Linked DNA regions of Homo sapiens. The protein of the gene in region 1 purifies or fractionates together with the protein of each later gene. This does not show direct contact. Each region holds a gene or a part of one and is shown in the gene's direction. Other genes may lie near its edges.

The links.
Region 2: the proteins of DYDC2 (region 1) and DLGAP5 purify together in Homo sapiens (affinity purification with mass spectrometry; one large-scale study listed by BioGRID and IntAct). This does not show direct contact.
Region 3: the proteins of DYDC2 (region 1) and TGFBRAP1 purify together in Homo sapiens (affinity purification with mass spectrometry; one large-scale study listed by BioGRID and IntAct). This does not show direct contact.

Annotation. Positions count from the first base shown.
Region 1 is NC_000010.11:80,363,192-80,366,848, forward strand, and holds part of DYDC2 (DPY30 domain-containing protein 2), read left to right. Parts: intron 1-3,496; coding exon 3,497-3,657.
Region 2 is NC_000014.9:55,150,484-55,153,615, reverse strand, and holds part of DLGAP5 (disks large-associated protein 5), read left to right. Parts: intron 1-968; coding exon 969-1,026; intron 1,027-1,674; coding exon 1,675-1,921; intron 1,922-2,767; coding exon 2,768-2,817; intron 2,818-3,132. UniProt on the Homo sapiens protein: Potential cell cycle regulator that may play a role in carcinogenesis of cancer cells. Mitotic phosphoprotein regulated by the ubiquitin-proteasome pathway.
Region 3 is NC_000002.12:105,267,313-105,270,880, reverse strand, and holds part of TGFBRAP1 (transforming growth factor-beta receptor-associated protein 1), read left to right. Parts: intron 1-1,175; coding exon 1,176-1,609; intron 1,610-3,321; coding exon 3,322-3,498; 3' UTR 3,499-3,568. UniProt on the Homo sapiens protein: Plays a role in the TGF-beta/activin signaling pathway. It associates with inactive heteromeric TGF-beta and activin receptor complexes, mainly through the type II receptor, and is released upon activation of signaling.

The DNA of each region.
Region 1 (3,657 bases):
TCAATATATGTGCAAGTATTCACATATTTGCATATAAACCAATGTTATTGACAATCTTTGTTAATGAAAAAAGGAGATGTTAAAAGACAAATTTGTCTTAGATTTTAGGAAATACTCTGGTGTTACTGGTTTTAAAAAAAATCTGTTTTTTTTTTTTTTTTTTTTTTTTTTGAGATGGAGTCTCGCTCTGTTGCCCAGGCTGGAGCACAGTGGAGCGATCTCGTCTCACTACAGCCTCTGCCTCCTGGGTTCAAGTGATTCTCCTGTCTCAGCCTCCCGAGTATCTGGGACTACAGGCACATGCCACCACGCCCGGCTAATTTTTTTTTTTTTTTTTTAGTAGAGACAGGGTTTTACCATGTTAACCAGGATGGTCTTGATCTCCTGACCTCATGATCTGCCCACCTCGGCCTCCCAAAGTGCTGGGATTACAGGCGTGAGCCACCACGCCCAGCCAAAAAATCTGATTTTTAAAAAATCTATTCACTTGGAACAAATATTTTTTCATATAAGATCCTTTGAGCCCTTTTCAAGTAGTATTCAGTATTTTTCAGAAACCAAATATGATTGTTATCAGTGCATACTTCAGATATTTAACTTAGTATTTAGTATTTGGTTTATTATATTCTATTTACTTTTCTGTGAAACTTCAGATGCCTCCTCTGTGATGTTATAATATTAGATGTAAGTTATTAAGCTGGAATAGCCGAAGACAACTCTGCATTCGTCAGTCTGACAAGCCTATCTTTTACCTCCCACAGTTTTTTTCACAATCTCCTGAAAAACGCCTTATGCTATTCTATGCTTTCTACAAAGTGGTAGATACCTGGATAGAGAGTCGTCTCAATTGCAATGTTGGGTTTGATATATGACATCTTTTTAGCTATGACTATACTCTGTGCATTAAAGTCTTTAATGCAGTCCATTACAATTCACCAGCATTTGTTAGCTTCCAAGCCAATTTGAAGACATGAAAATATTAAGCTTATTTACATTTATACTAATATACTCAATGTCCTCATAAAGAATAGATTTGCTTTTTTAAGCCTGGATGTCTTGTAAATAAATTAAATCAAAAGATAGTTTCATTCTATTGTTTGACAATAGTCTAAAGGAACTCTCCCTCAGGAAGAATTCCTTCTTTAAGCAATTGTTTGGAGATGGGAGAGGTGAGGATCATTCAGCAAAATTTGTCATCACCTTGCTGTGCACCTCTAATCCATTTCTAACACCATGCTTTACTGTTAATAGAAATAGAAATATATAAGGCAATAAGAAATATATAAAGAAGACTCCCAAAACTTCACCCTAGTTTTATGGTAGCTTTATTAAGGAAAATTTCTCGGTTCACATCAATATTTTGAATTGTCTTTTTGTGTTTCACTGAGGTTTTGCATCCTGCAGCAATATTTTTTAACAAGATTTAGATAAGTAAATGGTATGTCATTCTTTTGCCAAGTGTGTGATGTAGGCAGTTGTAAGGGAAGATGGGAAATGACAACAAGCACAATGTCTAGACTATGTGCAAGTTCTCAGTTTTAGAAAAGAGTTCATGTGTAGGTTATGATTATGGAAATTGATTCCCTATGTTAGAAGGAAATAAAGAGAACCCAAGAGTGATCTAAAATGAAGCAAATTTATAGTTTACCTGGCAAGAGAGAGCCACAACATTAAGATGTGAGTTACTCTCCAAGCAAACTTTGACAAGGCTAAATAAAGGACAAAGAGGCACAGGTGTATCAAAAAGACAAGATTCCAAGTTCTGGTTTCTGATTGATTCAAGGTGGATTACAAATTGCTCCTTGCTATTGGTCACCTTCACCTTTTGTGTGACTAGTGCTGGGAAAACCAATTTCAAACTGGCCCAGGATGGGTTGCATGAAATTTCAGCAGGGCTGCTAGTTTACCTGATGAACTGATATGCATATACTCAAAGCTTTGCAGTTTTTTCCTTGATCGCTTTAAAAAAAAACAAAAAAACATCATGACTTGGATACAGGTTAGCAAGTCTTTAAGTATCCCAGATTGAATAGTGCTTATCTAGTGGATGTATCAAAAGAGGAACAGAAACAGAATGCTATGTATGGTAGGGATCATACCCAATTATCTGAACCAAAAAGTATCCATAGAGGAGGTAGAATTTAAGTCAGGCAGAGGTTATCCTTGGTATTGATGTCTCTTCATTAAGCAGATGCAGCTTTAAGTAAACCATAATTTTGTTTCTGAGTCAGAAGAAAACTATTGTTTATAAAGATCTAAACTATACAAATGTTTTAGAAATGTATTTTTATAGAATGAATAGATATTTGCTGCATAGACTCAATAGTTTGAAGTGTAGAAGGGTCTCAGAGACCATGTGGACAAGGATGAACTCCACGGGGCTCATTGTAGAATGGACCTGTACAACTTCCAGGCAAAGATTGAAGTGGAGGGGATCAGTAGAGCCTAAGCTCCAAGGATTCCTACCTCAGCCAGGGACATGGATGTTAGACTGCTCAATATTGTCTCATAGGTCACTGAAGCTTGTTTGTTTTTTTCCTGTGTGGTTCAGTTTGGATAATTTCTACTGATAAACCTTCATGTTTACTGACCATTTCTTCTGCAATGCCCTATATCCTATCTGGGGATTCTGTGGATTTTTTCACTTCAGATATTGTACTTTTCATTTATAGAATTTCTATTTAGTTTTTTAAATATAATTCTCATTTTCTCTGCTGATACATCTTAACTCTTACATTATGTCCATTTTCTACCTTGGATTTTTGAAAATATTTATAATAGCTGTCCTTGTCTGTTAATTCCACCATCTTTGTCATTTTGGGACCTTTTTCTTTCTCTTTTTTTTTTTTTTTTTTTTTTGAGACGGAGTCTCACTTTGTCACCCAAGCTGGAGTGCAGTGGCAAGATCTTGGCTCACTGCAACCTCTGCCTCCCCGGTTCAAGTGATTCTCCTGCCTCAGCCTCCCAAGTAGCTGGGATTACAGGCGCCCGCCACCACACCCAGCTAATTTTTTTATTTTTAGTAGAGACGGGGTTTCAGCATGTTGGCCAGGCTGGTCTCAAACTCCTGACCTCATGACCCACCCACCTCGGCCTCCCAAAGTGCTGGGATTACAGGCATAAGCCACCACGCCCAGCCCATTCTGGGGCCTTTTTCTGTTGAATACTTTTCCTCTAGATTATGGTTCACATTTTCCTACTTTTTTACTTCTGGTAATTATTACTTGTGTTCTGGACATTGTAGAGGACGTTTTATAGGGAGTCTAGATTGTGTTGTTTTCCATGAAAAGATGATGGGTTTTGTTCTGGCAGGCAGTTAAATTATTGGTGAATCAACTTGATCCTATAGGTTTGGTTTTATGCTTTGTTAAAGCAGGGCTATTTCAGTTTGGTTCTTAGTCTCTGGCATGAAAATAGCAATACTGTGTTTTTGCCATACATCTTGTGTGCTTTAGTCTCTAATAATAAGTTTTCGGCTTTTTTGTTTTCTATTTAGGAACTGACTTCTGAAACTGTTTCCACGAAGAAGACCATATTCATGCAGGAGGACACAAACCCCCTTGAGAAGGAGGCCTTGAAGCAGGAATTCCTGCCAGGTACTTCCAGTCTGATTCCAGGAATGCCTCAACAGGTTCCTCCTTCAGAGTCTGCTGGCCA
Region 2 (3,132 bases), on another chromosome or scaffold:
ACACTAGAAAAATAGAGCATATCTTTTTTAAAAAGTAACTTGAAAGAAGTGGAGATAAATTTTTTTTTTTTTTTTGAGACGGAGTGTCGCTCTGTTGCTGAGGCTGGAGTGCAGTGGCACTACCTCGGCTCACTGCAACCTCCGCCTCCCAGGTTCAAGTGATTCTCCTGCCTCAGCCTCCCAAGTAGCTGGGACTACAGGCGCATGTCACCACGCCCAGCTAATTTTTTGTATTTTTAGTAGAGACGGGGTTTCACCATGTTAGCCAGGATGGTCTCAATCTCCTGACCTCGTGATCCACCCGCCGCTGCCTCCCAAGTGCTGGGATTACAGGCGTGAGCCAAGGCGCCTGGCCAAAACAGATATTTCTAATAAGATACAAGCTAGTAACTTCAGGATTAGAATACCTTGTATTCTAACTCAATTATTGTCTAGCTGGAGTTAGCTACATTTACTTGTTAACAAGCAGCAGACTTAAGAACATTGTAACTCCTGTTCCGCTTTTTGAACTTTCGGATAAAATTATAGAAATAGTATGATTGAAGTCAAGTTTCTTAGCAGGTACCTGGATTAACAAGTAACGAGTAAATGTAGCTAACTCCAGCTAGACAATAATTGAATTGTTGCTTCTGTCTCCAGAAGTCACCTTCTTTTTGACTTTTCTTTAATATATAGCTCTGGATTTGGCTGAGATTCAGAGTATTGCTGGTAGAGCCACCTGACCCTGACTGACCACCATGGTAACAGACTTGTGAGCTTTCTGGGGAAGAATGCATTTAGTTTGTAAGGCCATCCTGCAGTAGCTATAGTCCAAAACTAATCTATCTGGATCACGCCTGATCTTGCACCAGGCTCCATGTTTGATCCATTCCCTAAACTAATTGCCATCATTAAAGGAAAGACTCAAAATACAAGTGAAACAATAACAATATGTTTATGAGTGTAATGCTGCTTTTTTTCTTCTTTAGGAGCAGCATAGAAGATGCTCAGTGTCCTGGATTACCAGATTTAATTGAAGAAAATCATGTAAGTACAATTCCAGTGTGGTTAGATAGCCCAGTATGTCATATGTTTATATCATTATAGAAAGTAACTTTGTAAAGCATCCCCAGAATTTCCGTTGGAAATCTAAATCAGTCATGTAGAATTGTAGTTCTTGTTTCAATGACATTTGGGTTGTTTAAAACCATAGTGTCATTTTGTATTCTTCAACTCATATCAGAATGAATATGGAACCAGTGAACTAGAGCAGAAATCAGCAAACTTTGGCCCCTATTTTTACAAATCATATTTTATTGTAATAGCCACACATTTGTTTATGTATTCTATCTGGCTGCTTTTGCAATACAGTGGTAGAGTTGAGTACTTATGACAGAGACCCTGTGACTCACAAACCTAAAATATTTACTATTTGATCTTTTACAGAAAATGTTTGCCAGTCCCTGAGCTAGAGTATAGGTACTTGCTGAGAAACTTGCCTTCAATCATACTATTTCTATAATATTATCTGAACTAATTGTTGAAGAAGCAGGATAGTAGGATTTATAATGTTCTTAAGACTGTGTCCGGGATGTCATCCTTCTGTTTTTCTTGTATTTAATAGCAACAAGACTTTTAAAATTTGTTCCAAGTAATTAAATTGATAATTAAATATAATGCCATTTTTACTTCCAGGTTGTAAATAAGACAGACTTGAAGGTGGATTGTTTATCCAGTGAGAGAATGAGTTTGCCTCTTCTTGCTGGTGGAGTAGCAGATGATATTAATACTAACAAAAAAGAAGGAATTTCAGATGTTGTGGAAGGAATGGAACTGAATTCTTCAATTACATCACAGGATGTTTTGATGAGTAGCCCTGAAAAAAATACAGCTTCACAAAATAGCATCTTAGAAGAAGGGGAAACTAAAATTTCTCAGTCAGGTGAGATATTTAAAATATATTTAAACGAGCCTTTATTAAAGAAATGAACTTGGATTAAGGTATAAATTATCCTATAAGGTCCATTTTACATTAGATCTAACTATTGAGGATCCTTCATTGTTAGTGAAGACCCTGAATTAGAACAATTCCCTCAAGATTTTTTTTTTTTTTGAGATGGAGTCTCACTCTGTTGCCCAGGCTGGAGTGTAGTCGTGTGATCTCAGCTCACTGCAACCTCCACCTCCCAGGTTGAGGCGATTCTCCTACACATGTACCACCGCGCCTAGCTAATTTTTTTATTTTTAGTAGAGACAGAGTTTCACCACATTGGCCAGCCTGGGCTTTTTTTTTAGTTGTCCTTTTCAACACATATCCCCAAGTCTTTCTTCAAAATATCCTATTTTTCTTCCCTACTGCCTAGTTCTACCTATATTGTTGTGATGGTTCTGCAATAGGAAATGGCTCCTATATTTTTGTTATAATGTGTGCCAGTTTTACCTGCCATTTTCATCAGTTAGTCTGTAGCTGGTCTAACTGGGGCCTATGGTAAAACAAAAGGTTTTAACCTCGGCCAGACATTTAATGTCCTCCAGCTGTTCTTCATCAGCATTTTCTGGGTACCTTTAATGTTACAAGCATGAGATTTGTTTACAGAAGTCTGCTTTTATACCAAAGTTAAGGATAAGAATTTAACTACTTTCAAAAAACATTATAGCATAGGGGTCTATATTTTTGTCTTAGCATTTGATATGTGGAACTTTTCATATTTTTCATGGCTTTGTCCATTTCTAACAGCCCTCGAATGTGAGAATATTCTTTAAAAAGTTTTTTTTTGTTGTTTTTCAGAACTATTTGATAATAAAAGTCTCACTACTGAATGCCACCTTCTTGATTCAGTAAGTTTTCCAACTTGACAAGTCCCTTTATATTCTAGATTTGTTTTATAAAATGAATATTGCTTTTCTATTTGTGTACAAGGCTTAAAATGTATATCTTGTCATTGTTTTGCTTACTCACTCTTCATTTTTCACAGAATGAAGAAAAATTTGGTGTTTATATACTTTAAAATATAGTATGTTTTAATATTAACCCTGAAGATATGTTTTTCTATATGGTTTTTCTATCAAATTTGCTCTGACAAACTGGGTACTTGAATATCTGAATATATTTCTAAGTGATTCAAGAAAAATATAAGGCAAAGTTTCTGCCCT
Region 3 (3,568 bases), on another chromosome or scaffold:
GAGTCAAATATAAATGAGATGATAGATGTGGAAGTGTAAATCACCACAGTGATCTTTTCTTAACTGTCTTTGTACCTCACCCAGGGTCTTAACTATGGCAGCCACTTAGTAATTATTTGTTGGCCTTCCACTGTGAGGATGAAGGCGTTGCGTATTGTGGCTTCTGTGTCTAGTGCTATAAGGGATGTACCTTGCAGGGCCAGCCCTTGGCTACACAGGTAGCAATGTCTGCCATGTTCTTCAGGCCTAAGCGACAGCCAAGATTCAAATGCCTATAATTTGATTATTAGTCTTGACCCTAAACTAGGGGTTGTCCTCATAATATTTCTTCACAGTAGGAAGAGATCTTATAATCTCTTGAGGATGTAAAAACAGATGAGCCTCACTTCTGGTCCTTAGAGACTCAGAGTTTAATTGCAATGCAGATAAGGGCTGGTGCAGTTCCAGACGGGCTGGGTGGGAAGTTACAGATGGGGTTACAGATGGGGTAGGAAGCAAGGTGACTTTGCCCGTGAGACACAGCCCACTAAGGGTGGGGCCTTGGTCAGGAATGACGCTTTGGGTTATGTCATTTTCCTTAGGACCTGGAAGCTTAATTGCAGGTGAAACAAACAAAAAAATCCTATTATTGGCAACCTTCTGTTGAGTAATGTAGAGATGGATTTTGAATAATATGAGCTCATATTCCATTCAATGAAATCTACTTTACATTGGAATAAAGGGGTTCAGCACATCTTTTGGGGGGAAGTAGTGTTTGTTAGGATTTTAGGGGACATAGTGTCCTTCTATTTTAGTCAAAAGATACTGTCCTGGGAGGATAGGAGTGATGATGGAGTGACTGGAGACCTGGAAGGCTGATACTCACTGAGCCACTGGGCCTTTCTGTAGTTGTGGTTCATTTGTTCTTTTCATCCTCTGAACACTAGAGAAAGGAATTATTCTGTGGTCCAGCTATACTTTTGAGTAGAGTCTGCCTTCTGTTTTACTAACACCTGGATTCACAGTGTGAAAATGCAAGAAAACCTACCCTCAGTCATCTGGGTGGCAGCATTTGGCATTGTGAGGGAGCCAGGTTGACTTTTCCCCTCCTGAAGCCCAGAGCAGCAAGGAGGCCAGTCGCTGGGCGGGTGGCCGGCGAGCCCCTTTCTTTCTGAGCTGCAGGTTCTGTCTTGCAGAGAGGCTGCAGGGAGCTGGCCTGCCCATGGAGAGCGCCATCCTGCACGGGAAGCTGGGCGAGCATGAGAAGGCGCTGCATATCCTGGTGCACGAGCTGCAGGACTTTGCAGCGGCCGAGGACTACTGCCTGTGGTGCTCCGAGGGCCGAGACCCACCCCACCGCCAGCAACTCTTTCACACGCTGCTGGCCATCTACCTGCATGCTGGCCCCACTGCCCACGAGCTGGCCGTGGCTGCCGTGGACCTGCTGAACCGCCACGCCACCGAATTTGATGCAGCCCAGGTGCTGCAGATGCTGCCTGACACCTGGTCAGTGCAGCTCCTCTGCCCATTCCTGATGGGGGCCATGAGGGACAGCATCCATGCCAGGAGGACCATGCAGGTGGCTCTCGGCCTGGCCAGGTCCGAAAACTTAATCTACACCTACGATAAGGTAAGTGCTGGCCCCCACGAGCTGCTTCCTGGTCAGTCAACATTGTACTGAAGGTAGATTTTACTGATGGAAAAATAGTCTTTGTTGGTTTTTCTTTTTTCTGTCTCTATGACTACAACACATCAATATCTGATCCTACTCATAGAAACTGAGGTCTGTGTGAGCAGAGGCAGAGGCTGGGCTGGTAGGTGTAACATCGGTGTAGTTTTTCTCCCCTTTTGGACGCTGGTGATTAAGAGAGTCTGTAGGGAGGAGAGCAGCATCAGAATATCAGGCGCTTACCCAGCATGTGCTGTGTGCCAGGCACTGACCTAGGCATTTTACGTCATGCTTGCATTTTGTCATCATGACAGTTTTATGCAGTATTTACTGTCAGCATCTCCATTTCACAGGAGAGGAAATTGAGGCAGAGAGCAGTCGCATGCTCAGGAAATGGGCGTGCCCAGAGCTGCCTCCCAGGCCAGTTGAGAACCCCACATTCTTCGTCCCCACACTGTACTCACCTTCGGGAGACTTCTTTCTTGTGGGCCTAAATTCCACATGGCTGGCAGAGTCTTCTTTCCAGAGCGGGTATCCGACGTGTTCCCCTCCCACTTAGAAGCCTTTGCTGACGCTCCCTGTCCTGGAAGATGCAGTCCCACCTCCTTCAGCATATCCCTCCCCACCTCTCTCTGCTTCCCAGCTCATGTCCTGGCTTTAGCACAACCTTCCAGATGTGATTTGGTATTTCATACTTTGTTGCTTTTGTAAATGCTGTACCCACTGCCTGAGATATTCTTACCTTTTTCTTTGTCCCCAGCAAATGCCCAGTCAAAATTTAGCCTTTATTTTTTTCCCTTGGTGAAGCCATCTCATACCTCTTAAGTAGAGTAATCACCTTCTCTTTCACCCACTTTTACTTGGTGTTCGCATTCACAGCTGTTACCCGCTACTATTAGAGTTTGGGTTCTTTGAGGACAGGGAACTTCATTTCTTTATCTCAGTGTCTGTAGGGCTAAGCCTGCCATGTCGAAGGCATCTAATCCGTGTTTGTGGAATGACTGATGCAACTAAGGAGTGCAGGATGAATCGCTAAGTTGCTGCTTGATCCTGCCAATAGACCAACCTGCCTCGGTTGACACGAGTGAATTGTGTAGAAAAACTTTATAACTTTCAGAACTCAAGTCCTGTTGATCAGACAGGGACCGATGGCATTAAGACTCAGTTTCACCAGTTACCTCTAAGGAAACGGAAGGGTGTCTCCCAGGACCAACCAGGAATATGCCACTTGTTAGCTGTGTAACTTTGACTACATCCCTTATTTGTTTGTGCTTTACTTTTCTTATTTGCAAATGAGAGAACCCTGGAGTTACACTATTATATGGTCTCATTCAGCATTAACATTCATGACTTTCTAACAGGCCTTGCTTGAAATGATCAGAGCCAGAGAATGTTGGAGAGAGGATCTTAAGTAGAAATGCCTCAGCCAGACAAGCAACAATTACTTTTGTGAAATAAGAAAAGCAATTGTGTAACTTTCTTCCTTGTCCAGTTACTAAGGATGGTTTTATTTACACCTTTAGCATTTCATTTCAAGAAGTTGATATTAAAGAAATCCTCATCATAATAATAACCCATGGAGTAATGCATGTCAACTCTGCAAAACTAGAACGTAGCCACTTTAAATATACTTAACACATGACAGCATTCTCAGTCTTGGTTTCTTCTTGCAGATGAAGTTGAAAGGAAGCTCAATCCAACTCTCAGACAAAAAGCTTTGTCAGATATGCCAAAATCCCTTTTGTGAGCCTGTGTTTGTTAGATACCCAAATGGTGGTCTTGTGCACACCCACTGTGCCGCCAGCAGACACACAAACCCCAGCTCATCCAGTCCTGGCACTCGGACTTGAAAAGCTTGGCCCAAGGGTGCGAGGGGAACTCCGAGTTCTTTCTGAGCCTGCTGGACATGAAGAGCAGATG